Homo sapiens: one gene and its partners. The protein of the gene in region 4 purifies or fractionates together with the protein of the main gene of each other region. This does not show direct contact. Each region holds a gene or a part of one and is shown on either strand. Other genes may lie near its edges.

Region 1 (3,500 bases), on a different chromosome or scaffold from region 4:
TTCCAAAAATCCATCAACCAACCTATTAACAGGAACAAAGGCTGATCCTCCCAGAGGCGACTACTAATTCTCACCTTTTAAAACATTCTTTAGGATACAAGCCACACACATTCTTTTCACATAAAGCATCTTCAAAGCTGGTATAGCACAGTACAAATCAGTATGTATCACTTCTTAAAATATTTAAATAAGCTGTGTGATGAATTTGACTCTCCATAAACCTCTAAAACAAGTATAATGAAAAATATCTGTTCGAAAAGCTCCTTCACAAATAAAACTACTTTTTAGTGAAAGGACCACAAACAGTGGGTCTCCATCATCCTTAAAAAATAAAAAATATTTGCGAAAACTGTAATTTATCAATTATATACACAGTACTAAAAAAGGCATTCAAAGAAATCCATCTAACAATAATTATTCAACACCAAAAACTTTAACAGACTAAAGGTGTTCATGAATAAAGTTTTTTTTAATAACTACGATCACAGCTACTGTTAAAGGGGAAAAATACATTTTAACATTAAAGTTTAAAAAACCATCTCTTATACAGCTGAAAACCAAATTAACATAAAAATGAATATCTCTAGTTTGCCTTTTTTAATTTTAAATTATACATCCAAAGAATAGAAAAAAAAATACAGCATAAGGACAGGAAAGAAAAAAATGTGGCAGGGAATCTAAAACTGCTAAATTAAAGGAAAGAAGAATGTAGTAGGAAAAACTCATGCTTCAAGTCTTAAGCTTCATCACAAATGACAGGTCAATCAGTTAGAGCAAATGAAAAAATTTTGCACACAAGATAGCTGTTGAAACAACCAAATTAAACTAGAGGTTCTCAGTAGGCAGCTTCCAATGCTCTAGGTGTATTTCAAGCAGAAATCATTATCCCAAAGGATTAGGCCCTGATCAAACAGAATTCTTCGGTTAGTCAAATGACAGTTGTATCAAAAATCTGTTCTTTGAAAATCATATAGGGAGCAAGAACTGAAGGAGACAGCAATTGGAAAGAAACTAACCTGCCCTGTGATTCTGCCTAGTAAAGCCCATATTCCTTGTCCTTCACTTCGAAGTTTTCCATTCAGGTTTTGTAGTTCTTCTAAAGATTCACATAGCTACAAAGTAAGCCAAATTAGTAAACTTCATTAAAATATCTGACAATTTAAGAAATATCTACATTTCTATTCCACATATATATATATAATTTTTTTTTTTTTTGAGACAGAGTCTCACTCTGTCACCAGGCTGGAGTGCGGTGACACGATTTCGGCTCACTACAACCTCCGCCTCTGGGGTTCAAGCGATTCTCCTGCTGCAGTTTCCCGAGTAGGTGGGACTACAGGTGTGCACCACCACATCCAGCTAATTTTTGTATTTTTAGTAGAGACAGGGTTTCACCATGTTGGCCAGGATGGTCTCGATCTATTTTTTTTTTTTTTTTTTTGAGATGGAGTCTCACTCTGTCGCCCAGGCTAGAGTGCAGTAGCACGATCTTGTGTCACTGCAACCACCACCTCCTGGGTTCAAGCAATTCTCCTGCCTCAGCCTCTCGAGTAGCTGGGATTACAGGCACCCTCCACCACGCCCAGCTAACTTTTGTATTTTTAGTAGAGACGGGGTTTTGCCATGTTGGCCAGGCTGGTCTCAAACTCCTAGGATGGTCTCGATCTCTTGACCTCGTGATCCACCTGCCTTGGCCTCCCAAAGTGCTGGGATTACAGGCATGAGCCACTGCGCTCGGCCTCCATATATTTTTAATATATTCAAGCCACAATACCACTGAGAGACAAGGCTATCCAATTATTCAGCAGTATTTGTTGCTGTAAGCATTTTGTTTTCTGCTGGCATTTTTACTAATAATGGTAACTACGTTTATACCTTCTTTTACAGTTTGTTATATAACATCATGTTCTGCTAACTAATCCTTGTGACTCTCTCAAGATGTATTTCCACTATTTTCCCAATGAAAAAAACTAAGGATCATAGAGTTTTTGTGAGTTGGCCAAGATCACAGAACTAGCAAGAATCCCCAGGTCCTCTGAATCTAATTCCAAGTACTCTTTTTACTACACAGTGTAGCTGATTATTGGAAACGTACTTCCTACTATTTTTTTATGACTTAAAATGTTTTCTAACAATAAGTCAATACCCGTTTTATATGTCAAGTTATACTTGGTATAACATTTTAACCACATTTTGCTTTTATAAGATACTTCTTTTTGAATCTTTTCTCATTACGATGAAGAGGTACATGAAAATTCAAATTTGGAAATTTTTATTCCAAACATTATAATATAATTCAAGATAAATAATAATTTAAAGAAAAGTTTCTAAATTTTCTACAAACTTAGAAAGTGAAGCTCTATAGCAATGTTTATTGATTAGAAATAGAGAACAGAGTCACATGAGTTGGCCTCACACCAACTGACTTCATTTGTCAAGTCTGTGACTTGACTACTTGTGTGAACCTGGGCAAATTATTTAACTTCTTCAGGATTCAGTTTTCTCCCTGAAAATGGAAGCAATGATTATAACCTACACTATAAAGTTAAGCTGGGAATTAAATAATACATGTAAAGAGATCAAAATTATGCCTGGCACACAAAGTGCTCAGTAAGAGACAGTGATGATAATGAAGCTAATGAGGAGTAGGAGTTATAGGGAAGAGCCAAAGAGCTCCAGAAGAAATTAAAAACAAAACATAAAAGAAATGCCATACATTCACAAAAGAAATCATCAGTAAGATCTATCACATTATGTTGCATATTTTGTAGCTAACTTACCTTATTATATTCTACATGAAGCTTTTCTTGTTCATTCTCTAATTTATCTTTTATATTCTTTTGTTCAGCCATATTTTCCTGAATTTGAATCATGCGCATATTTCTCTCTATTTAAATGAAATATCGAATTTTACTTTAGTAGGAAGTAAAAACTGACATAGGAAGAAACTAGCTATAAAGATGATCACATTGATAAACCTACATAGTTTAAAACTTTTAAGTATATTTACAAATAAATGAACCTAGCATTTTGTAAAAACCCACAACATATTAGGAAAATAAACATCCCTCTATGATATATGCAGCATGGCTAATAAATTTCTAAAAATTAACAGTATATCAAACATTTTCATTAACAAATTGTTCTCAGTGAAAATGTGCATGTACCAGTGTCTATACTGACCAAAATAATAATTCACAAAATCTGCAGTGAGAGCTGGTTGCTTATGTTTTCTCCTTCCATCCACACTAGAACTAGTATCTGAATTGTCCACTGGAAAGATATCTGTACTGATCCCCATGAGTTCTGCTTTCCGCATAAGTTTACGAATAGCTGAAGCACTGCTGGTGAGTGGTCTGGGCAATTTTTCCCTTGGAACCCAGGCCTGGGGTCTGGTAGATCGAGCTAGTTCTGCTTTGGCACGATACTGCTGAAGCCGGGCATTGATCCTTGCCTATAAAAGAAATGTATTCAAATTTTAAAAGATAATAAAATGAAAC
Region 2 (4,287 bases), on a different chromosome or scaffold from region 4:
CGGTGGCTCACACCTGTAATCCCAGCACTTTGGGAGGCCAAGGTGGGAGGATCACAATGTCAAGAGATCGAGACCATCCTGGCCAACATGGTGAAACCCCATCTCTACTAAAAATATAAAAATTAGCTGGGCATGGTGGCATGCACCTGTAGTCCCAGCTACTTGGGAGGCTGAGGAAGAAGAATTGCTTGAACCCAGGAGGCGGAGGTTGCAGTGAGCTGAGATCATGCCACTGCTCTCCAGCCTGGTGACAGAGCGAGGCTCCGTCTCAAAAAAAACCCAAAAATTAGCTAGGTGTGGTGGCACTGGCCTGTAGTCCAGCTAATCAGGAGGCCGAGGTGGGAGCCTGCAAGGTCAAGGCACAGTGTGAGATGTGATCATGCCACTGCACTCCAGCCTGGGTGACAGAGTGAGACCCTGTCTCAATTAAAAAAGAAAGAGGCCAAGGTGGGCGGATCACGAGGTCAGGAGATCGAGACCATCTTGGCTAACACGGTGAAACCCCGCCTCTACTAAAAATACAAAAAATTAGCCGGGTGTGGTGGTGGGCACCTGTGGTCCCACTACTCGGGAGGCTGAGGCAGGAGAATCGCTTGAACCCAGGAGGCGGAGCTTGCAGTGAGCCGAGATCGCGCCACTGCACTACAGCCTGGGCAACAAAGCGAGACTCCGTCTCAAAAAAAAAAAAGAAAAAGAAAAAAAAAAAAAGAAAGACGTTGGGCATGGTGGCTCACGCCTGTAATCCCAGCAGTGTGGGAGGCCGAGGCGGGTGGACACTTGAGGTCGGAGTTTGAGACCAGCCTGGCCAATACGGTGAAATCCCATCTCTACAAAAAAAAATACGAAAATCAGCTGGGCGTGGTGGCAGGCGCCTGTAATCCCAGCTACTCAGGAGGCTGAGTCACAAGAATTGCCTGAACCCGGAAGGCAGAGGTCGCAGTGAGCTGGGAGCAAACCACTGTACTCCAGCCTGGGCGATAGGGCGAGACTCCGTCTCAAATAAATAAATAAATGAAAAGGAAAGAAAGGAAAGAAAAGAAAGGAAGGAAAGAAAGGAAAGGAAAGGAAGGAAAGGAAGGAAGGAAGGAAGGAAAGAAGTCCTGACTAAAAAGTTTTGAGAATCCTTCCATTTTTCAAAACCCTCCTCAAATCTTCACCTCCTCCATGTAGGCTTCTGTAATCACTTTGGTTTTCCAAAAGGTTAGAGAAAAAAAGGATTAATGATAGTACTTTCAGCCTGTTTCTAATTGTTTTGCCTTTCAAAACACTGTCCTCCCAATAGAGCGTCTATAAATCCCAGAAGCATTTTTGTTGCACAATGAAAATGGAATTTTATAGTTCTGATGATGTACACTTAAATAAAAATATGACTGTTAAATAGTTTATTACTGAATTAGTTTGTAAGTGAAATTTGTTCTGAGATTAGGATGTATTCTGAATAGAGTCTGTCTCATTTGACATTTTTACCAGCCTCTGCCAATGCTTAACTGAAGGACTTTAACATACAGGGTATATATTCATAATACTAGTCTGTCTACTGATTTCATCCTTTTATGTCTGCTAATCTTGACCTTGTAAACAAGGTCTCAAGGAAAAATACACAAAATAACATGCAGACTTAACCACATTTGCCAACGCAGTATCTCAGATTCTTCCAACAGCTGTACGAGAACTTTTACAAAATTAACTTTTGGTTACTTAATAGCTAATTATTGACCCCTTTTCCTGTTAAGGCCTAGCCTGAAGATCTAATAAGACCTTTTAAATGGGAACAAATATTCTGTGTTAGCATGTAAAGAACAACTATGAAGCTAAAAAAGCTAGACTCCTTTACGACCTTAATTTGTGGAACAAAAAATCCCAATGGAAGCACTCTGCTCTCAAGCAGACCCTCCATAAAGTGGCAGAAAAGTGTTTTCATCCATATAATCAAAGTATCATGAAAAGGACCTGCCTGGAAACCAGAAAGCAAATGTGAAATAAAGGTCTTTAGTTTGCCACTCTATGAAAAAGTTTAAACGTCAAAGCTTAGGCAGATAATGAAATTCATAAGCACTTTACAGTCCGTGGTGCGCACTTGAATTTCAGCGTCGAGGGAGGAGGGTGCGCCTGGGTTTTATCTTTTACTGCTTCAAAAACAAGACATTTCCAAACTGGGATAACCACACTTATCAAATTAAGTAAACAGCTTCCTAAACCAACTTTCTGTCTGGCTAGCTGTGTATTCGGCTGACTCACTTGGCCAGTGAAAAACAAGATCGTGCTTGTTTCCCCTCCAGTATCATCAGGGTGTGTAAGCCAGTCCTGCTCAAATACATGCTACGGTGATACAGAAAGTACGCTGAAGAAATAGAGAGCCCTAACCACTCAAGGTGGCCTTTGGGAGATCCAGCCGCCCTCCGCCCCTCTTTCCGCTCCCTCCATCCCCATCCCGGCACCCCCGCGGCCAGTGCCCCCTTGCCGAGGTCCGCGGGGTCCCGCCCCAGAACTTCCCGAATCGCCCACGAAGCCGCCCTCTCCGAGCTTTCCGAGAGATCCAGCCCGTGTGACCAAGGCTAGTACTCCAGTCTCGTCTGCCACTTACCTTGCTGGGTCCCCAGGCCGCTGCCGTCCCGGGCTCAGGCGATGCCACTCCTACCAGATCCATTCGGGAATGAAGGCAGAGACAAGAACAGAGCAGAGAGGTGGCAGGACGGGCAGCAGGCTCCGCCGAGGAGACAGGCGGGACACGGGCGACTGGCTGCTGATGCCGGAGTGGAGGTGACAGATGGCGGCGACGGCGGCGGCCGCGTCCGGAACTGGATCTCTCCTCTTCCGCCCTCTTCGCTAGGACAGTCGCTTGCAATTGGCCGCACGCCCCTAGCTCCTCCTTAAGGCACCTTTCCCCGCCCCCGGGCGGGCTACTTCCGGCTGCTGACCGCCGGGCTCGGAGAAGCAAGCATCAGCTGGCTGTCGCTTGGGGTCACGTTGCCTGTGTCGGGCAGGGCAGGGCAAGAACTGGGTGTGGCTTCCTTTGGCCCAGGCTCTGCCCTGTCCCCGCACTGCCATCTCCTTCTTTCCTCCTTGGCACCCCAAAAATTGCCGCTGGATCTAAACTAGATTAGACTAGTGGATTGTAAATAAATAAACAAACTAGGCTCTCTCTGTTCATTCATTATTTCCTGGAGCAGTTCTAAACTGGGATGACTTGGGAGACAGAAAACGGCAGGTTTATAGAGGGAAAGGGCCTGGAAAGGACGGTCGGAGTTTGTGGTGGTTGTTGTTGAAGGGCGGGGCGTGGAATGCGGAAAATGTGTAAAATGTGTTACGTAACAGTGAACAAAAATAAGACTGCATAATAAAACTTTTGTTTCTGTATTTTGTAGAGATTCTAATAAAATGACCAGATAAAAGATAACTAAACATTGCATTTCACTTAGTATATCAATGCACTGTTCAAATCTTTCATTAACTTTTTAGTCCTCAAAATTACCGTGAGAGCTAAATTCTGTCATTATCTCTATTTTACTGATATTGAAACTGAGGCACAGAGAGGTAAAGTAATTTAGTTGAGGTCACACAGATAACAAGTGGCAAAGCTAATAAGGGGTGAACCCAGACAATCGGTTTGGGAACTGGACTGGCTGTACATTATATTTTGACTATAAACTATACACTGTCTATATGTTGTATATTCAAACATTCTAGAAATAGGTACTGAATAACTGTTTTCCCTAAATCTCAGTTCCGAGTCAGTATCTCTAACTGTCCATACTTGAGAGCCCTGGGTTACTGATCTTAATGATTTCCATTAGCACACAATCTTTGCCTCCTTTCCATTCCAGGTGAAAACATGTTCTGAATCCTCCAAATACCCCTACTGCAATAAGGCAAACTATAGCCATATGATAGGGTGCAGATGTGTGCTTGGCAAATGTTGCCTATATATGTGAATGTGTGTGGAAATTGTGTTCCTTCCTAGTGTTCAAAGGATTATAATTGGACGATAAATAGTTTAAGAAAAATGGGTGTAACTATTAATAGAAATGGACTTCTCAATTCTGGCTAGGAAAAAATAGGAGAGGGCTGGGCGTGGTGGGTCATGCCTGTAATCCCAGCACTTTGGGAGGCCAAGGTGGGTGGATCACCTGAGGTCAGGAGTTTGAGACCAGCCTGGCCAACACGGTGAAACCCCATCTCTACTAAAAATACAAAAAGCAGCCGGGTGTGGTGACACGCACTTGTAATCCCAGCTACTCAGGAGGCTGAGGCAGGAGAATCACTTGACCTCGGGAGGCCGAGGTTGCA
Region 3 (3,500 bases), on a different chromosome or scaffold from region 4:
TCTGATATATTAGAGAATTTGACTTACAAGATTTGCAATTTTAAGTGTAACACCTAGGAGGATTTAATGAATTAATTTTGTAGTCAATGTTTGGATGCTCAGGAGAACCTGAATTTATCAGTTTAATTCTCAGCAGGTTGAAATGCTTTAAGAGAATTTGTGTGCTAAATTTAGAAGTTTTGATTTATTAGTCTTACAAGAACTAAGTAAGTCCTGAGAAAGATTTTGTTTCTTCTATTTGTAAGTCTTCCTGTTAGGGATTTGAAGATTTTAACAAAGCCAGATGTATCAAATTTGTGAGTATAGTTTGAAATGCTTAGAGGAATTTAATTAATCAAGTTTATAAATACTGTTTACATTTTGAAAGATTATTTGATTTGTTAAGCTTATAAAAATTGTGACTAATAAAAATATGTAAGATTGATTTGATTAAGTTTGAAAATGGTATTCAAATACTTAGTTGGAAGTATTCTATCTCATGTTTAAAGATTTATTGAGCTTTAGTCAAAGAACAAAGGCAAATGAATGTTTCATACTTTAATGCACACAAACTAGATATATAAGAAAACTTCCATGATTTATAAAATATGTTCAAAGGCTAAAAAACACTGTAACTTCAACAAATTGAATATCAATTAAAACTCACGCAGCTATAAGAGCTTTTTGCAATGAACACATTCTCATTCAGATATTAAACAATGATGCTCACTCCATATAAGGGTGGTGACTTTGTGACATAAAGGATTGGAAATGAATGCTTAGGGGATGGTGTAAAAGAAAACATTTGGGTTTTCTGGACCATGATATACAATATCCAAATGATGGACTACTGGTAGACTGTGTGTACATTTCCAAAGATGGAAAGAATGTTGAAAAGCATTTAGCAAGAGATTTGCTGACCCAGTCAGGACAGTTTTAAACTACCATCTTTAGGGGGAAGAACATAAATGTTTTACCCTGTAGCTATTGTACTTGATGTAGAAGGAATCCAGGAGGAGGCTGAGACAAGAATGGACACGTATAATGGATATGATTGTGTGTCAGAGTTTACTAGAGGGCATAATATTAATTACTATTAATTGGTATTTTAGTGGTATTTAGTGGATGTCAGACTTTTCAAATCTTTCCCTCTCTTCTTACCTTCTACAAGGTAAGTTTCATTATAACCATTTTATCAGTTGAGGAAACTGGGGGCCCAGATAGGTTAAATACCTTGCATATGTACACATAGCTACTAAGTGGTAGAACCAGCACTGGAACCCATCGCCTGGGCTCTTTCCTAACCATTCTACTGCCAAAGGCTAGGAGTAAGTTTATTAAAGGGTGCGCTCATACAAAAGACATGAAAGGCACTCAACAGGGAATCCCAAATATTAAACATAGTGATAAAGCTGAATTGGAAAGTAGATTAAGAACTATACAAGAGAAGGGCAGGGGATTAGGCCCAGGGCTGCTTAGACAAATTAATTTCCTTGAGCAGTTCATATGTAGCATTAAAACTCATGCTGATTCGTATGTCTCCAGGTCATCATAAAGCACCTCTTCATCTTTGGTGCTCCTCATCCAGAGAGCTTCATATTTCCCCTTCCACTGAGGTGGAATTGAAGTCTCTCAAGGTGGCAAGAGAGAAGTTTGGTGCAATGTAAGCCAGTTCCCCAGTCAGTCTCACATACGTGGGACTTCACATGCACCACTTCATGCTGGAATTTTCCTGTGTCTATCGTATTTTTATATGGTGTGAACAATGCAGGAGTTGGAGGGCTGGGTGGAGAGTAGGTTTCTCCTGGTTTCACCTCAGCAAGGACAAGTAAAGGAGAGAGTGCACCTGCTGCTAGTGGGGGGTGTTAGAGAAAAATCCAGGGGGTTGACAGCAGTTAGGCCAGAGAAGGGTCCATAAGATGGAGGAGGTGCTTATCATTTTCATCTCTCTGAGTTTCTGGTATGCTTGGGTAGACGGGAGGTAAGATGGTAATGATAAGCACCTCCTCCAATCGGAAGTCTTTTCCTGGGGCACAATACCTGTTGAGGGTGGCAAGGTGTGGGTCAGGTATCCTGTGGGGCTCAGTCAACTGGAGTGTGGAAGAAGTAAGTGTGAGTTAGAAACCATGGTTATTCTAGAACGGGGGTTCTGAATCAAAAGCATTCTATTTTGTAACAAACCTTTATGGTAGGGAGAAATTTGGCCCAGTTTTTCTTTTGCATCAAGGCACAGCATCGTAAGTGTGCTATACGGTCTGCTTGAGGCATCGGGTCTGGTTTTTAGATTTTGGCTGATGTGTGCAGAAGAGAAGCATGGTCAGTTTGCTCATGACGCACACATTTTAATGAGTACCTACTCTGTGCCAGGCACTTGGATAGGTTCTGGGAACAGGAAACAAAATAAGGGATCCCTGTTTTCATGGAGCTTGCAATCTAGTAAGCAGGGAGGTGTGGGAGAGATAGACAAGGTACAGACAGTTGCAACACCACGGGATAAATGCTGTGGAAATATAAGGACCCCTCAGCTAGACTTGCAGGTCTAGGACAGCATCTTAGTATAAGCACTGAGCTAAGTCAAAGAGGACAGCAAGGTCACTAGGGAGGATGCCAGTCCTAGGTGTCTAGGTGATGCTAGACAGAGTGATGGTAGTAAGGTAACTCTGTTCTGGTCATCTCCTTTTAAGAGGGCCATTAACAAATGGAAATAACCAGTAGAGACTAATGATGATGATGTAAAGTTGGAGGAACCAGGGACAGTTAACCAGAGCTGGGGATGCTTCAAGATAAATAGAAGCTTAATACCTTATCCTTATACTTACTGGAAAGCCTGCTACGTGGAAGAGGCCTGAGACAAGTAGGAATAGTCCAAAACCAAAGAGGCAAATTTCATTTCAAGAAAAGGAAGAATTCTGTGATGATTTAATAATTTATTGAATTTAACAAATGGGAAAAATAGAGTAGAATATTTAAGCAGAGTTTGGTACTCTTACAATGGCCCTGTTTGGAAAGTTGAGGGGTTGAACTTTTATTTGGGTGGAAAATTGTCAAAAAGGCCTCTAGTATTTTCTCTTGTGTGATAGGACTCTTACATTGCTTTTCTGCCTCCAATGACAGTTTTCCTTAAATGAGGTATCATCCAAAAGCCACCAAGTGCAGGAGCATGTAGGCAGATGTCTAAGGCACATAAAAGCAAATTGCATGGGTCTTCAAGCTGTGAGGGGGTGGAGAGTGGGAGGACAATGCTAAAAGAAATTGTTTCTAATCGCTCTTCCAGGTTGAAACAGAATCCTCATTGGCATGATGAAGATTAAATGAGACAATGGACTGGAGGGAACATAAATAAAAGATATCATTATCAATTTTATTAACATAAAACTTCCTTTCTAGTTTCCAAATGATGGATATTAATAAATTATTATGAGTATTCCCAATCCAGTGTTCTTGAAGTTAATTAAAACACAAAACTCCACATTCATTTCCCTGTGCCTTGCTGCCTCTCTTCCTCTTTGTCGTTTCCTCCT
Region 4 (3,021 bases):
GTGGAACCTTGGTATCAAGATATGCCCAGGGCCTGAGTAGGGCCTGTCCCAGGACTCACAGGCAGACACATGGTCACAGAATGCCAGTAGCCCAGAAGAAAACAGTAAAGAAACAAAGAAAACAAAATAGGTCACCATTTGAAGCCCTCTCCTAAGCCTAAGGGGTGAAGGCCATGTTTTCAGGCTCAGCCCCGCATCTCTCCCCTAACCCCTTTTCTTTAAAGGGACAGGGTCTCCCTCTATTACCCAGACTAGAGCACAGTGGCATGATCACAGCTCACTACAGCCTCACCCTCCTGGGCTCAAGGGATCCTCCTGCCTCAGCCTCCCAAGTAGCTCAGACTATAGGTGTGTGCCACCACACCCAGCTAATATTTTTTCTAGCAATGGTGTCTTGCTCTATTGCCCAGGCTGGTCTCAGACACTTGGACTTAAGTTATCCTCCCACCTCTGAAAACGCTAGGATTATAGGTGTGAACCATATGCACCCAGCCTCCATCTCTTGTTATATGCATTCTTGTGGCTGGTGGTCGGGGGAGGGGTGGGGGAGGGACAAGGAGCAGAACCGTGGTAAAAGGAGGCAAGGGACGAGGCAAAGAGGCAGAGCCAGAAAGTTCCTCATTTTATACATAAGGCATTGGGGCTGGAGGAAGAGATTTTTTGAGCAGAGCAAGAAGACTGGAGCAGAAGGGAGGAAGGACAAGAGGCTGTGATGTGATCTCTAGTTTTGTTTAACCGTGTTCCTTGTCTTCCATATTCCAGATGTTTTGAGGAACACTCAAAACACCTGGTCCTGTTGGGGCCATCAATCCTAGCACAAAATAGGCCAGGTGCGGTGGCTCACGCCTGTAATCCCAGCACTTTGGGAGGCTGAGGCAGACGGATCACATGAGGTCAGGAGTTCAAGACCAGCCTGGCCAACATGGAGAAACCCTGTCTCTGCTAAAAACACAAAATTAGCCGGGCGTGGTGGTGTGCACCTGTAACCCCAGCTACTCAGGAGGCAGAGGCAGGAGAATCGCTGGAACCCGGGAGGCAGAGGCTGCAGCGAGCCAAGATCGCACCACTGCACTCCAGCCTGGGCAACAGAGCGAGTCTCCATCTCAAAAAAAAAAAAAAAAAAAAAAATTCCTAGCACAAGACCTAAGCCAGTCTGTCTGAATATGTGATGCTATTGGACCTGGAAAACAGTGAGCACTGGGCATGTCACCCGAGCAGAGCAGCGTGTCTTCACTGGCTGACGTATCATGGTAGACGAAAGACAGTCTTTTAGCTCTAGGGCTGCAAAGCTGGAAAGAGTAGACTCTAGGGCTGCCACTGGCCATCTTTCTACTTTGTGAAAAGATCTTGCCTGCAGACTGAGGCCAAAAAAAGATACACAGGGCTAAGGCGTGGGCACAGAGCCCTGGTATGTATGTGTACATACATACATACATACATATATATATATATATATATATATATATTTTTTTTTTTTTTTTTTTTTTTTGAGATGGAGTCTTGCTCTGTCACCCAGGCTAGAGTGCAGTGGCACGATCTTGGCTCACTGCAACCTCTGCCTCCAGGGTTCAAGCGATTCCCTTGCCTCAGCCTCCTGAGTAGCTGGGACTACAGACGTGCACCACCACGCCCGGCTAATTTTTTGTATCTCAGTAGAGACAGGGTTTCACCATGTTGGCCAGGATGGACTCGATCTCTTGACCCTGTGATCCACCCTCCTCGGCCTCCCGAAGTGCTGGGATTGAGCCCTGATATTTTTGAGACTCTGGATCTAAGCATGGTTGAGGCTAGAACTCCAATTTCTTAGTCTTTCCAGTTATATAAGCAAATACATTCTTTTTGCTTAAGCTACTTTTTTTCCCTTTTTTTTTGCTTAAGCTACTTTGATAGAGTTTTAGTCACTTGCCACTTATGAGAGTTATGATTAATATGGGCTATAGAGGAGGGAGATTAGATTTGTTCTAGATGATCCCAGAATTAAGACTAAGGTCTAAAGATGGAAGTCACAGCAAGGGAGACTGCAGTGTGAATCAAGACCTTGATAATGACAGGAGCTGTCCAGAAAGAATGGGAATGTTAGGAGGGAGTGTCTTCTCTGTTGCTGGATGTAGTAGAGCAGGGGTCTGCAATCTTTTACTTAGAGGGCCAGATTGTAAATATTTTAGTTTCTGCAGGCCATATGGTCCCTGTCGCAACTACTCAACTCTGCCATTGTAGTGTGAAAGCAGCCATGGACAGATATGTTAATGAATGACCATGGCTGTGTTCCAATAAAAATTTATAGAAACAGGCCTGCTGGCCCACGCGGGCTGCAGTTTGCTGACCCCTGAGCTAGAGAATCATCTGTTGAGACTGTTAGAGAAGAGGGGCACAGTCACCAGACTGGAGGTAGGGGTACAGCACTACACTAAATGATCCTTCCAGTCTTTTCCAACTTGACTGTTTTTGGGAAACGGCATTCCCAGCTTCGATCAACTGACCTACAACTCTATTTTGCAAATACGCCTGACTGCCACAGAGGACTGCTTGCTTCTGGGCTCTGGAGACCCAAAGTACAGCAGGTCAGAGTAAGTCTTGAGTATTAGTTTTGGAGGTGAGGGGCCCAACAGGGCTCCTCCAAATTCCTCTCAATGGCTCATCTGGTTTGTGTATCATGAATGAATCTAGTAAAACTGTCGTGGGGACATCTGTATTCTTGCCCACGTCTCTCTCTCGGGACAATGAGCTCTGTGAGTTGCCCTAGTCAGGTAAGCCTGGCTCCCTCTTATTATTGGGCCACACTTTACCTATGTGGGGTCACAGAGTTAGGAGGGCTCCGAGGTGCCTGTGAAAAACTTTCCCATCCTCTCCTTACTCTGCAGGATTGAACAGTACTTGCGTGAAGAAGAGAACACCTGCAGAGACAGGATACCTGCAGCCCTAAATTTGGGTTCTACTATTTAGACTATTTCAGCATTTTGTGCTTTTATCTTTATTAACTCCTTTCTACTTTTCTTCTTTCATGTTACTCTTATCTTTTCC
Region 5 (3,500 bases), on a different chromosome or scaffold from region 4:
AATTTTAAAAAATATATACTCCAGGCATGGTGGCTCATGCTTGTAATCCCAGCACTTTGGGAAGCTGAGGCAGGCGGATCACCTGAGGTCTGGAGTTCAAGACCAGCCTGGCCAACATGGTGAAACCCCGTCTCTACTAAAAATACAAAAATTAGCCAGGCGCGGTGGCTCATGCCTGTAATCCCAGCACTTTGGGAGGCCGAGGCAGGTGGATCATCTGAGGTCAGGAGTTCAAGACCAGCCTGACCAACATTGAGAAACCCCTTCTCTACTAAAAGTACAAAAATTAGCCGGGGGTGGTGGTGCATACCTGTAATCCCAGCTACTCAGGAGCCTGAGGCAGGAGAATTGCTTGAACCCGGGAGGTGGAGGTTGCAGTGAGCCAAGATCATGCTATTGCACTCCAGCCTGGGTGACAAGAGCGAAACTACATCCCCCCAAAAAATTGTGTGTGTGTGTGTGTGTGTGTGTATATATATATATATGTGTGTGTGTGTATGTATGTACATGTATATATATTTGTTGTTGTTGTTGAGACAGGATCTTGCTTTGTTGCCTAGGCTGGTCCTGATTGGCTTCAAGTGATTCTCCTGCCTTGGCCTCCCAAAGAGAGCAAATACATGACTTTGGGGACCCAAGTCTGAGGAAGCACAGAAAGAATGCTACTCCTGTGACTTTTGGAGTGGGAAACCTGTCTTAAAATCCACTGGTTCCCCAGATTCCCATGCTTTTTTGTTTTTTGTTTTGTTTTGTTTTTTGAGATGGAGTTTTACTCTTGTTGCCCAGGCTGGAGTGCAGTGGCATGATTTAGGCTCACTACAACCTCTGTCTCCCGGGTTCAAGTGATTCTCCTGCCTCAGCCTCCCAAGTAGCTGGGATTACAGGCATGCGCCACCATGCCTGACTAATTTTTGTATTTTTAGTAGAGACTGGGTTTCACCATGTTGGTCAGGGCTGGTCTCAAACTCCTGACCTCAGGTGATCTACCTGTCTCAGCCTCCCAAAGTGCTGGGATTACAGGCATGAGCCACTGCGCCTGGCCTGTTGTTGTTGTTTGAGACAAGATATCCCTCTGTCGTGCAGGCTGGAGTGCAGTGGTGCAATCAGGGCTCACTGCAGCTTCAAACTCCTGGGCTCAAGCGATCCTCCCACCTCAGGCTCCCCAGTAGCTGGGACCACAGGGGCTACCACAAAATTATTTTTTGTAGAGATGGGGGTCTCACTATGTTACCCAGGCTGCTCTTGAACTCCTGGGCTCAAGTGATCCTCCTGCCTTGGCCTCCCAAAGTGCTGGGATTACAGGCATGAGCCACTGTGTCTGGCCCCCATGCTGCATTTTGACAGCAGATTGGAGATGAAGCCCTTCTATATCTGATTGCTTTTCCAAGGGATGTGAAGTAGGTGAGGTGGGTGAAAGAGGCAGGGTCACCCAGGGCGGGAGGCTGTACAGACACGGTGGCCTGATGAGGCCATCTCCCACTCAACGGGAACCCCCAGCCCACATCCTGATCTGAGATCCAGCACCCCAAAACCGAACTCCTCTAGGTCATCCCCAAGGCCTATTTGTGCAGCAGTGCTTGTTCCCTGGAGTTCTGGGGTCCCAGACGGAGTGTGGTGAAATGGGCAGAGTGGGGCAGTGGCACCTGAGGCCTCCTTAGCTCCAGCCTCCAGCAAGATGTTCCTGACAGTGACACGGCTGTACTTCAGCGCCGAGGAGGGGGGTGAGCGCTCTGTCTGCCTCACCTTTGCCTTCCTCTTCCTGCTGCTGGCCATGCTGGTGCAAGTGGTGCGGGAGGAGACCCTCGAGCTGGGCCTGGAGCCTGGTAAGTGCAGCCCCCAACGTGGGGCCACCGCAGCTGTCACTCCCTCATGTAATCTGACCAAGATGGTTTAACTGGCTCCGTGTCCAGCACGAGTAGGCAAAGGAGTGGGCTCCTGGGGTGAAGGCAGTCCCCATTAGTGACCATCTCAGCTCCTGAACCTTGTTGGGCTTTGGGGAAGACAGGACATTGCCTCTCTCACTGTCTCTGATGGACACTCATGGCTATAGCTCTTTTTTTTTCTTTTTTTTTTGAGATGGAGTTTCACTTTTGTCACCCAGGCAGGAGTTCAGTGGCATGATCTTGGCTCACTGCAACCTCTGCCTCCTGCATTCAAGTGATTCTCCTGCCTCAGCCTCCCAAGCTGGGATTATGGGTGTGCACCACCACGCCTGGCTAATTTTTGTATTTTTAGTAAAGATGGGGTTTCACCATGTTGGCCAGGCTGGTCTCAAACTCCTGACCTCAGGTGATCCACCCACCTCAGCCTCCCCAAGTGCTGGGATTACAGGTATGAGCCACTGTGTGTGGCCTCTTTTTTCATTTTTTTAAAAAATTATTTATTTATTTATTTTTATTGAAACAGGGTCTCACTATGTTGCCCAGGCTGGTCTCACACTCCTGAGCTCAAGCAGTCTGCCCGCCTCAGCCTCCCAAATTGTTGTTATTACAGGTGTGAGCCACCGTGCCTGGCCTCTTAAATGATCCTTTTAACATATAATTTGGACCTCATCACTTCTCTGCCCGGCACCACACTCCCCCGGTCTTAGGAGAAAGACCATAGCCCTCACCATGGCCCACATGACCCTGCTGACTGCTTGAGTTTTACCTTCTCCAATTCTCCCTGCCTTTCAGTTTTTAAAATTATATATGTTTGATATATACAAAGAAGATGTGTATGTCAATTATAAAGCAAAATAATCATATGAGTACCTGCAAACCTACCCCTCAAATAATAAGTAGGTGGGGTAGTGACTGCACCAATCTCCCAAGGGGGCGGCAGTAAGGTTTAAATGAATCAAGATCCATGGATAGGGCTTGATTTTTGCCAACCTAGCCCTCGTCACATGGAATGATGCCCTCTGTGGCCTTAACATGCATGTCTCTGATTACCAGGGAAGTTGAGCACCTTTTCCTGTTTATTCATGATTCATGTCTCTTCTGTGAAATTTTTGTGAAATACCTGTTCACATTGTTGCCCATCTTTGAATCTTTTTTCTCTTTGAATTTTTTTTCATTGTGGTAAAATAGACAAAACATAAAATTCACCATCTTAACCATTTTTAAATGTGCAGCTCAGTGGCATTAAGTATATTTAGATGGCCGAGCATGGTGGCTCATGCCTGTAATCCCAGCACTTTGGGAGGCTCAGGCAAGCAGATCACCTGAGGTCGGGAGTTCAAGACCAGCCTGATCAACATGGAGAAACCCTGTCTCTACTAAAAATACAAAATTAGTCGGGCGTGGTGACACATGCCTGTAATCCCAGCTACTTGGATGGCTGAGGCAGGAGAATTGCTTGAACCCAGGAAGCGGAGGTTGTGGTGAGCCAAGATCGAGCCATTGTGCTCCAGCCTGAGCAACAAGAGTGAAACTCCGTCTCAAAAAAAAAAAAAAAAAAAAAATGTAGGCCAGGTGTGGTGGCTCACATGTGTAATCCCAGCACTTTGGGAGGCCAAG
Region 6 (3,500 bases), on a different chromosome or scaffold from region 4:
AACGAAGCCACTGTATGCCATTATGTAGGTAGCAAAATCTGGGTATGCTTAACAGCATGCTTTTCAGAGCTTTTCCAAGTGTACAGTATCTGTGTATGTTTATATGTTGTTGGTTGTAATAAGGGAGGGAATTTGGTTACATTGTTATTGGCAGTGTTCCCAGAATAGAGAAGACGCATGGCTCCGTTTCTTCTTCATGGACTTTTTGGGAAGTGTTGGATAACTAGGCTTTAAAGTAAGCATGCTTAAGAAGAGGATTTATAGCCTCAAGAAAACGTGACATTATACTGCATTTGTAAATAATTATTACATATGTATACAGAGTTTTAAGGATAATCTTTTTCCCATTTTAATGAAAACTCTGCAATGTTTGATGGGTAAATAATATGGGGGAAACTCTTTGTTGCTGGGCTTGTGTATTCATGTCTGGTACAGCTATATTGCTGATGATTCTGTCCCTTTACCTAGGTCTGATACCACAACTTATAGGGGTTGCTCCAGAAAAGGCCATTAAACTGACTGTAAGTTTATCTCTAACTGAATTTATGTCATTTGTTTAGATTACCATTAAGCCAAAAAGCTAAAATCAAGGCTAGGCGTGGTAGCTCATGCCTATAATCTCAGCATTTTGGGTGGTGGGAGGATCACTTGAGACCAGTTCTAAACCAGCATAAGCATAGTAAGAACTCAGCTCTACCAAAACAACAACAACAACAACAAAATTAAAAATTAGCCAAGTGTGGTGATTTATGCCAGGAGGCTGATGTGGGAGGATTGCTTGAGTCCAGGAATTTGAGGCTGTAGTGAGCTATGATCATGCCACTGCACTCCAGCCTGAGCAACAGAGTGAGACCCTGTCTCAAAAACAAAACTAAAATTGATGCTGCTGACACTGGCACACTGTCGCAGAATTTGTACAACTTTAATTTTACATGTAAGCATTTGATAATTTTAAATTTTATCATAAGACAAATATTTTGCTGACTTGGAAAAGCAACAGTATGCCAGAAGAGAAATGGTTGGGAATTTTGGTTAACTGATGTTGTCTTTCTAATTAGGTTAATGATTTTGTTCGGGACAAATTTACCAGAAGAGATGGCTCTGTTCCACTTCCAGCAGAAGTTCTTGCTGGAGGCTGTGTAAGTATTACTGTTAGGCGCTTCTTGTGACAAATACATTCCGTTGACCTTTTTGCACAGATATAATAGATATCTTAGTGGCATTTCTCTTGAACTCAAGGGATTCTAAGCAGGTTTTCTCAATAATCATATGGAATAAGTTTTAAATTTTATTGTAAAAGCTAACGGGTTTTGAGTGTAGAAAAGAGGTAGCATTTTCCGCCAGTTAGAATGGTGATCATTAAAAAGTCAGGAAACAACAGATGCTGGAGAGGATGTGGAGAAATAGGAACCATTTTACACTGTTGGTGGGAGTGTGAATTAGTTCAACCATTGTGGAAGACAGTGTGGCAATTCCTCAAGGATCTAGAACTAGAAATACCATTTGACCCAGCAATCCCATTACTGAGTATATACCCAAAGGATTATAAATCATTCTACTATAAAGACACATGCACACATATGTTTATTGTGGCACTATTCACAATAGCAAAGACTTGGAACCAACCCAAATGCCCATCAGTGACAGACTGGATTAAGAAAATTTGGCACATATACACCATGGAATAATATGCAGCCATAAAAAAGGATGAGTTCCTGTCCTTTGCAGGGACATGGATGAAGCTGCAAACCATCATTCTCAGCAAACTGTCACAAGGACAGAAAACCAAACACCACATGTTCTCACTCATAGGTGGGAATTGAACAATGAGAACACCTGGACACAGGGCAGGGAGCATCACACACTGGGGCCTGTCATGGGGTTGGGGGTTGGGGGTTGGGGGAGAGATAGCAGTAGGAGAAATACCTAATGTAAATGATGAGTTGATGGGTGCAGCAAACCAACATGGCACATGTATACCTATGTATCAAACCTGCACATTGTGCACATGTACCCTAAAACTTAAAGTATAATAACAAAAAAAGAGGTGGCATTTTCATCAGCTCTATCTCTTTGATGCTCCTAAAGCATTACCTTCCAGACTTTTTTAAAAGTTCTAATTCCTATGCCTTTTAAGAAATAGAGTACAGAAAATATAGTAGTGGATAGAGTTACCATTCATATATGTTAACTGGAACTTTAAAACAAGTGTGAGATGGCTGATTAATTGGGCCCTTATATCTTAGGTATAGGACTGAGTAAGCCATTGTTTAATAATAATTTTTCTTCTTTAGAGGCCAGAGGGTATGGCAAACAATAATAACGGTAACTACATTTCAGCTATTGACAGAAATTCTGAACCAAGAGACTCAGATATTTACTTAGCGCACAAAGGTTTCTGTCTTTAAAGTGTAAGCATGACATGATTATTGGCAAACAATAATAACGGTAACTACATTTCAGCTATTGACAGAAATTCTGAACCAAGAGACTCAGATATTTACTTAGCGCACAAAGGTTTCTGTCTTTAAAGTGTAAGCATGACCAATTCTTAAATCTATTTGCAGCTCAACTAATTTCATTTGTGGTATTTGTTTCATATTTGATAACACATGGTTCGTTTCAGACTTGTTTAGTCCATTTTGTTCTTGGAAACATTAATAACTTCCAGTTGAATTGGCTGACAGTCTTGGCTAAAACTTCCTCAGTTGCTTGTGAAACCTGAAGTGATGAGGTCAGTGACCTTGGCAACATTTAATTCAGAGACACTGCCTCGGGGGTCAGAGAGAGAGAGAGGTTGCTCCAGATTCTCTTTGATATGTGTCAGTGTGGCACATACCTGAGTCCTCTGCAGAGTTGCTTTGGAAGAGGTGGACTGCTGTGTGGGTGTGTGTGTGCCTGTATGCATGCCCCAGCACATTCTCAGGAAGGAAATCTCTTTGGCTACATTTCTTTTTTAATGAAGAGTTAACAGTGGACATAGAATAAAACTTTTGCTTAGGTGGATCACCAAAAATGAAGTTTCTCTTCTTCCTTTATTCCAATTAGATTCTGTAATTGGTTCTTATCTAGAGAGCGAACCTTTGCCAATCATAAATATTCTTTTTCTTGGTCATTTTAAGTTTCTGTTTGGTTAAGAAGCTTTCTAACTCATTTTTATCACAGCACATGCATACCTTTGCCAGAAATATAAGTCATGCTCTTTCTGTTCCATGTAGCTAATTATTTGTTTCCGTTTGCAATATCCAGGTTTTTGGTCATGAAGCTGACCTGTTTCCATGTCTGACATGTGACCTAAGTGGTTAAACCAAAATAAGATGTTTAGTTCCTTTGTTCTTCCTAGCTACCGACCCTGTTTATAGGTTTGAACTTTAGGAATTTCTATTGAAGTCTGGGTTGCCTTGAGGGTTGTGCTGACACTCTAAATCTCTTCCTTAATCATGACTCATTTCTGGAGGCTTTGATGGATTGTCTAGTGGGAAATTGACAGCATGAAAAAT
Region 7 (3,500 bases), on a different chromosome or scaffold from region 4:
AGCCTCCTGAGTAGCTGGGACTATACACAGACACACGCCACCATGCCCAGCTAATTTTTGTATCTTTAGTAGAGATAGGGTTTCACTATGTTGGCCAGAATGGTCTCGATCTCTTGACCTCGTGATCTGCCCACCTCAGCCTCCCAAAGTGCTGGGATTACAGGCGTAAGCCACCGTGCCCAGCCGTGAAATTTATTTCTTAATGCTTATAGAAAAGTTTTAAAATGTATTTTAATTAAAATTTAAAAATTTTTAAAAATAAAAGAGGCCAGGTGGCCTCTTTTAATAAAAGGTGGCTCATGTCTGTAATCCCAGCACTTTGGGAGGCTGGGGCGGACAGATCATTTGAGGTCAGGAGTTCGAGATCAGCCTGGCCAACATGGCAAAACCTTGTCTCTACAAGAAAATAACAAAAATTAGCCAGGTGTGGTGATGCACACCGGTAGCCCCAGCTACTCCGGAGGCTGAGGTGGGAGAATTACTGGAACCCAGAAGGCAGAGGTTGCAATGAGCAGAGATCATGTCCCTGCCTTCCAGCCTGGGAGACAGAGAGAGATCCTGTCTCAAAACAAACACACAAGAAAAACCCCAAAAACAAAACACCCCTTGATCATGACACAGAGAAGCTGAAACTATCCATAACATCCATAATTCGATGTTAAATCCCCAGTGGGACACAGATGACTTGGTGAGACTAATGAAATAAATGACAGCAATGATAACTGACATACAGATTAAAAGCTAAATTCCTCAGCCTAGCTCCCAATCACATCTCCCCAAGTAAGACCCTTCTGTTTCCACCAGAATGAATGCGTCTACACTTGACCTACTTGTTACTCAAATTACTTCCCCAATCTGGAATGTAGCTGAAGTTTTATGACTTCCCAACGGATTTTTTTAAAGGAGGAATAGGGATGGGGAAAGTGGTGGTCTGTGACCCAAGAACTCTTGCCCAATTAACTTGTCTTCCTGAAATTTCAAACTGAGTAATATACAGCAATTTTGTATGTATAACCCTGCAGAGAACCAGGACAGACTGAGTCTTTTACTTCTATTATCATATTTGTGATTTTTATATATCATCACACTGGCCAAACTTTACATCATCCCAAATCTTCATAAACTACAACATTATGCTCTAACTTCACAAATACTGTCTACTGATTACATACATACTTCAAAGTTCACTGGGGTATGGTGGTTTATGTCTGTAATCCCAGCAACTTGGGAGGACCACTTGAGGCTAGGAGTTAGAAACCAGCCTGGGTAACATAGGGAGCCCTGTCTCCACAAAAAAATAAAAAATAGGCTGGGCGCGGTGGCTCACGCCTGTAATCCCAGCACTTTGGGAGGTGGAGGTGGGTGGCTCACGAGGTCAGGAGATCGAGACCATCCTGGCTACCACGGTGAAACCCCGTCTCTACTAAAAATACAAAAAAAAAAAATTAGCCGGGCGTGGTGGCGGGTGCCTGTAGTCCCAGCTACTCGGGAGGCTGAGGTGGGAGAATGGCGTGAATCCGGGAGGCGGAGGTTGCAGTGAGCCGAGACTGCACCACTGCACTCCAGCCTGGGTGACAGAGCGAGCCTCTGTCTCAAAAAAAAATAAATAAATAAAATAAAAATAAAAAATTAGCACCCAGCGCAGTGGCTCACACCTGTAGTCCCAGCACTTTGGGAGGCTGAGGCAAGTGGATCACCTGAGGTCAGGAATTTGAGACTGACCTGGCCAACATGGTGAAACCCAGTCTCCTCTAAAAATACAAAAATTAGCCGGGTGTAGTGGCGGGTGCCTGTAATCCCAGTTACTGGGGAGGCTGAGGCAGGAGAATTGCTTGAACCCAAGAAGTGGAGGTTGCAGTGAGCCAAGATTGTGCCATTGCACTCCACCTGGGATACAGAGCAAGACCCTGTCTCAAAATAAATAAATAAATAAATAAATAAATAAATAAATAAATAATTAGCCAGGTGTGGTGGCACACACCTGAAGTCACAGCTACTAGGGAGGCTGAGGCAGGAGGATCCTTTGAACCCAGGAGGTTTGAGGTTGGAGTGAGCTATGATCATGCCACTATACTCCAGCCTAGGTGACAGAGTGAGACCCAGTCTCAAAATAAAAAAATAAAAATAAAAGATAAGAGATTGCTGGCCCTTGCTTAACTTTTAAAAATTTTTTTACTTTGAGATAGGGTCTTGCTCTGTCACCCAGCCTAGTCTGGAACTCCAGGACTCAAGTGTACAATCTACCCACCTCAGCCGCCCAAAGTGTTGGCATTACAGGCGTGAATCACTGTGCCCAGCCCCTTGCTTAGCTTTAAAAACAAGTACACCAAGGTTCTTTTACATTGGCATTGGGTAATAGCTGACAAGATGCATCTCAAACTGCTATTAAAGAAACCAATGAGGCCGGACGTGGTGGCTCAAGCCTGTAATCTCAGCACTTTGGGAGGCTGAGGCAGGTAGATCACCTGAGGTCAGGAGTTTGAGACCAGTGTGGCCAACATGGTGAAACTCTGTCTCTACTAAAAATACAAAAATTAGCTGGGCACAGTGGTGCACACCTGTAGTCCCAGCTACTTGGGAGGCTGAGGTGGGAGAATCGCTTGAATCCGGGAGGCAGAGGTTGCAGTGAGCCGAGACTGGCCATTGCACTCCAGCCTGGGAAACAAGAGTGAAACTCTGTCTCCAAACAAACAAACAAAAAAGCCCCAGTGAGCATAATATGTCTTTTTTCAAATATATTCCATGGGTTTCTGTCACTGAGACTAGTGCACCTTCTGGATGGCCATATACAACAGACATTCCTGTACAAACCTCTGCAGTGAGGTACTCCAGAATCGCAGCACTGTACACGGCAGCAGTGGCACCCACCCTTCCATGGCTTGTGGTGCGAGTCTTCAAGTGTCTGTGGATGCGGCCCACAGGAAACTAAAAGAGAGATGTCTTAGTGGGAAGCACTGCAGAGTCTTAACATTGCACTGACTGTAATCAAAGGCTGAACAATGTAAGCATGAAATAATAAAAAACTTGATCACACATATCAGAAGCCAAACCTATTACGCATCAATAGTTCCCAGGGCCTGTGTCTCTGTTCTGGTAATCTGTCCAAAATCTTTAACCTCTGCATAATATGGGAAATATCACTCTAAAATGAAGAAATACCACGCTGGGCTGTCATCAACTGTACGTTCAACATGACCCATGGATCAAATTCCTATCTAGTTAATTTCTTCACATAATAGCCACATGCAACTTTGAACCTCCAATACCTTCCTCAGATCTTAAATGTTCTTTCTTCAGTTTCAAGAGGTGATCTGATAGTTAAGAAAAATCAATACTATTATCTCATTGTGGTTCTTTCTACTTTCTGAAAAAGAGGGTATTTTTCTCATTTCAAAGTATCCTGATCCCACTTGTCTGTGCCCTTTATTATTTTTTTTATTGAGACAGAGTCTCACTCTGTCACCCAGGCTGGAGTGCAGTGGCGCCATCTTGGCTCACTG

Evidence for each region.
Region 1: the proteins of TM9SF4 (region 4) and PHF14 purify together in Homo sapiens (affinity purification with mass spectrometry; one large-scale study listed by BioGRID and IntAct). This does not show direct contact.
Region 2: the proteins of TM9SF4 (region 4) and RIOK3 purify together in Homo sapiens (affinity purification with mass spectrometry, with the first as the bait; one large-scale study listed by BioGRID). This does not show direct contact.
Region 3: the proteins of TM9SF4 (region 4) and TACR1 purify together in Homo sapiens (co-immunoprecipitation; one large-scale study listed by IntAct). This does not show direct contact.
Region 5: the proteins of TM9SF4 (region 4) and TMEM161A purify together in Homo sapiens (affinity purification with mass spectrometry; one large-scale study listed by BioGRID and IntAct). This does not show direct contact.
Region 6: the proteins of TM9SF4 (region 4) and SLC25A12 purify together in Homo sapiens (affinity purification with mass spectrometry; one large-scale study listed by BioGRID and IntAct). This does not show direct contact.
Region 7: the proteins of TM9SF4 (region 4) and H2AZ2 purify together in Homo sapiens (affinity purification with mass spectrometry; one large-scale study listed by BioGRID and IntAct). This does not show direct contact.

The regions. Positions count from the first base shown.
Region 1 is NC_000007.14:11,036,372-11,039,871, reverse strand, and holds part of PHF14 (PHD finger protein 14), read right to left. Parts: intron 3,455-3,500; coding exon 3,184-3,454; intron 2,888-3,183; coding exon 2,781-2,887; intron 1,113-2,780; coding exon 1,017-1,112; intron 1-1,016. UniProt on the Homo sapiens protein: Histone-binding protein. Binds preferentially to unmodified histone H3 but can also bind to a lesser extent to histone H3 trimethylated at 'Lys-9' (H3K9me3) as well as to histone H3 monomethylated at 'Lys-27' (H3K27ac) and trimethylated at 'Lys-27' (H3K27me3).
Region 2 is NC_000018.10:23,451,800-23,456,086, reverse strand, and holds the start of RIOK3 (serine/threonine-protein kinase RIO3), read right to left. Parts: upstream 2,801-4,287; 5' UTR 2,648-2,800; coding exon 2,585-2,647; intron 1-2,584.
Region 3 is NC_000002.12:75,189,521-75,193,020, forward strand, and holds part of TACR1 (substance-P receptor), read right to left. Parts: intron 425-3,500; exon of another isoform or gene 1-424. UniProt on the Homo sapiens protein: This is a receptor for the tachykinin neuropeptide substance P. It is probably associated with G proteins that activate a phosphatidylinositol-calcium second messenger system.
Region 4 is NC_000020.11:32,161,714-32,164,734, reverse strand, and holds part of TM9SF4 (transmembrane 9 superfamily member 4 isoform 1 precursor), read right to left. Parts: intron 1-3,021. UniProt on the Homo sapiens protein: Associates with proteins harboring glycine-rich transmembrane domains and ensures their efficient localization to the cell surface.
Region 5 is NC_000019.10:19,128,479-19,131,978, reverse strand, and holds part of TMEM161A (transmembrane protein 161A isoform 1 precursor), read left to right. Parts: intron 1-1,671; coding exon 1,672-1,823; intron 1,824-3,500. UniProt on the Homo sapiens protein: May play a role in protection against oxidative stress. Overexpression leads to reduced levels of oxidant-induced DNA damage and apoptosis.
Region 6 is NC_000002.12:171,807,245-171,810,744, reverse strand, and holds part of SLC25A12 (electrogenic aspartate/glutamate antiporter SLC25A12, mitochondrial), read left to right. Parts: intron 1-468; coding exon 469-521; intron 522-1,058; coding exon 1,059-1,139; intron 1,140-3,500. UniProt on the Homo sapiens protein: Mitochondrial electrogenic aspartate/glutamate antiporter that favors efflux of aspartate and entry of glutamate and proton within the mitochondria as part of the malate-aspartate shuttle.
Region 7 is NC_000007.14:44,838,088-44,841,587, forward strand, and holds part of H2AZ2 (histone H2A.V), read right to left. Parts: intron 2,926-3,500; coding exon 2,812-2,925; intron 1-2,811. UniProt on the Homo sapiens protein: Variant histone H2A which replaces conventional H2A in a subset of nucleosomes. Nucleosomes wrap and compact DNA into chromatin, limiting DNA accessibility to the cellular machineries which require DNA as a template.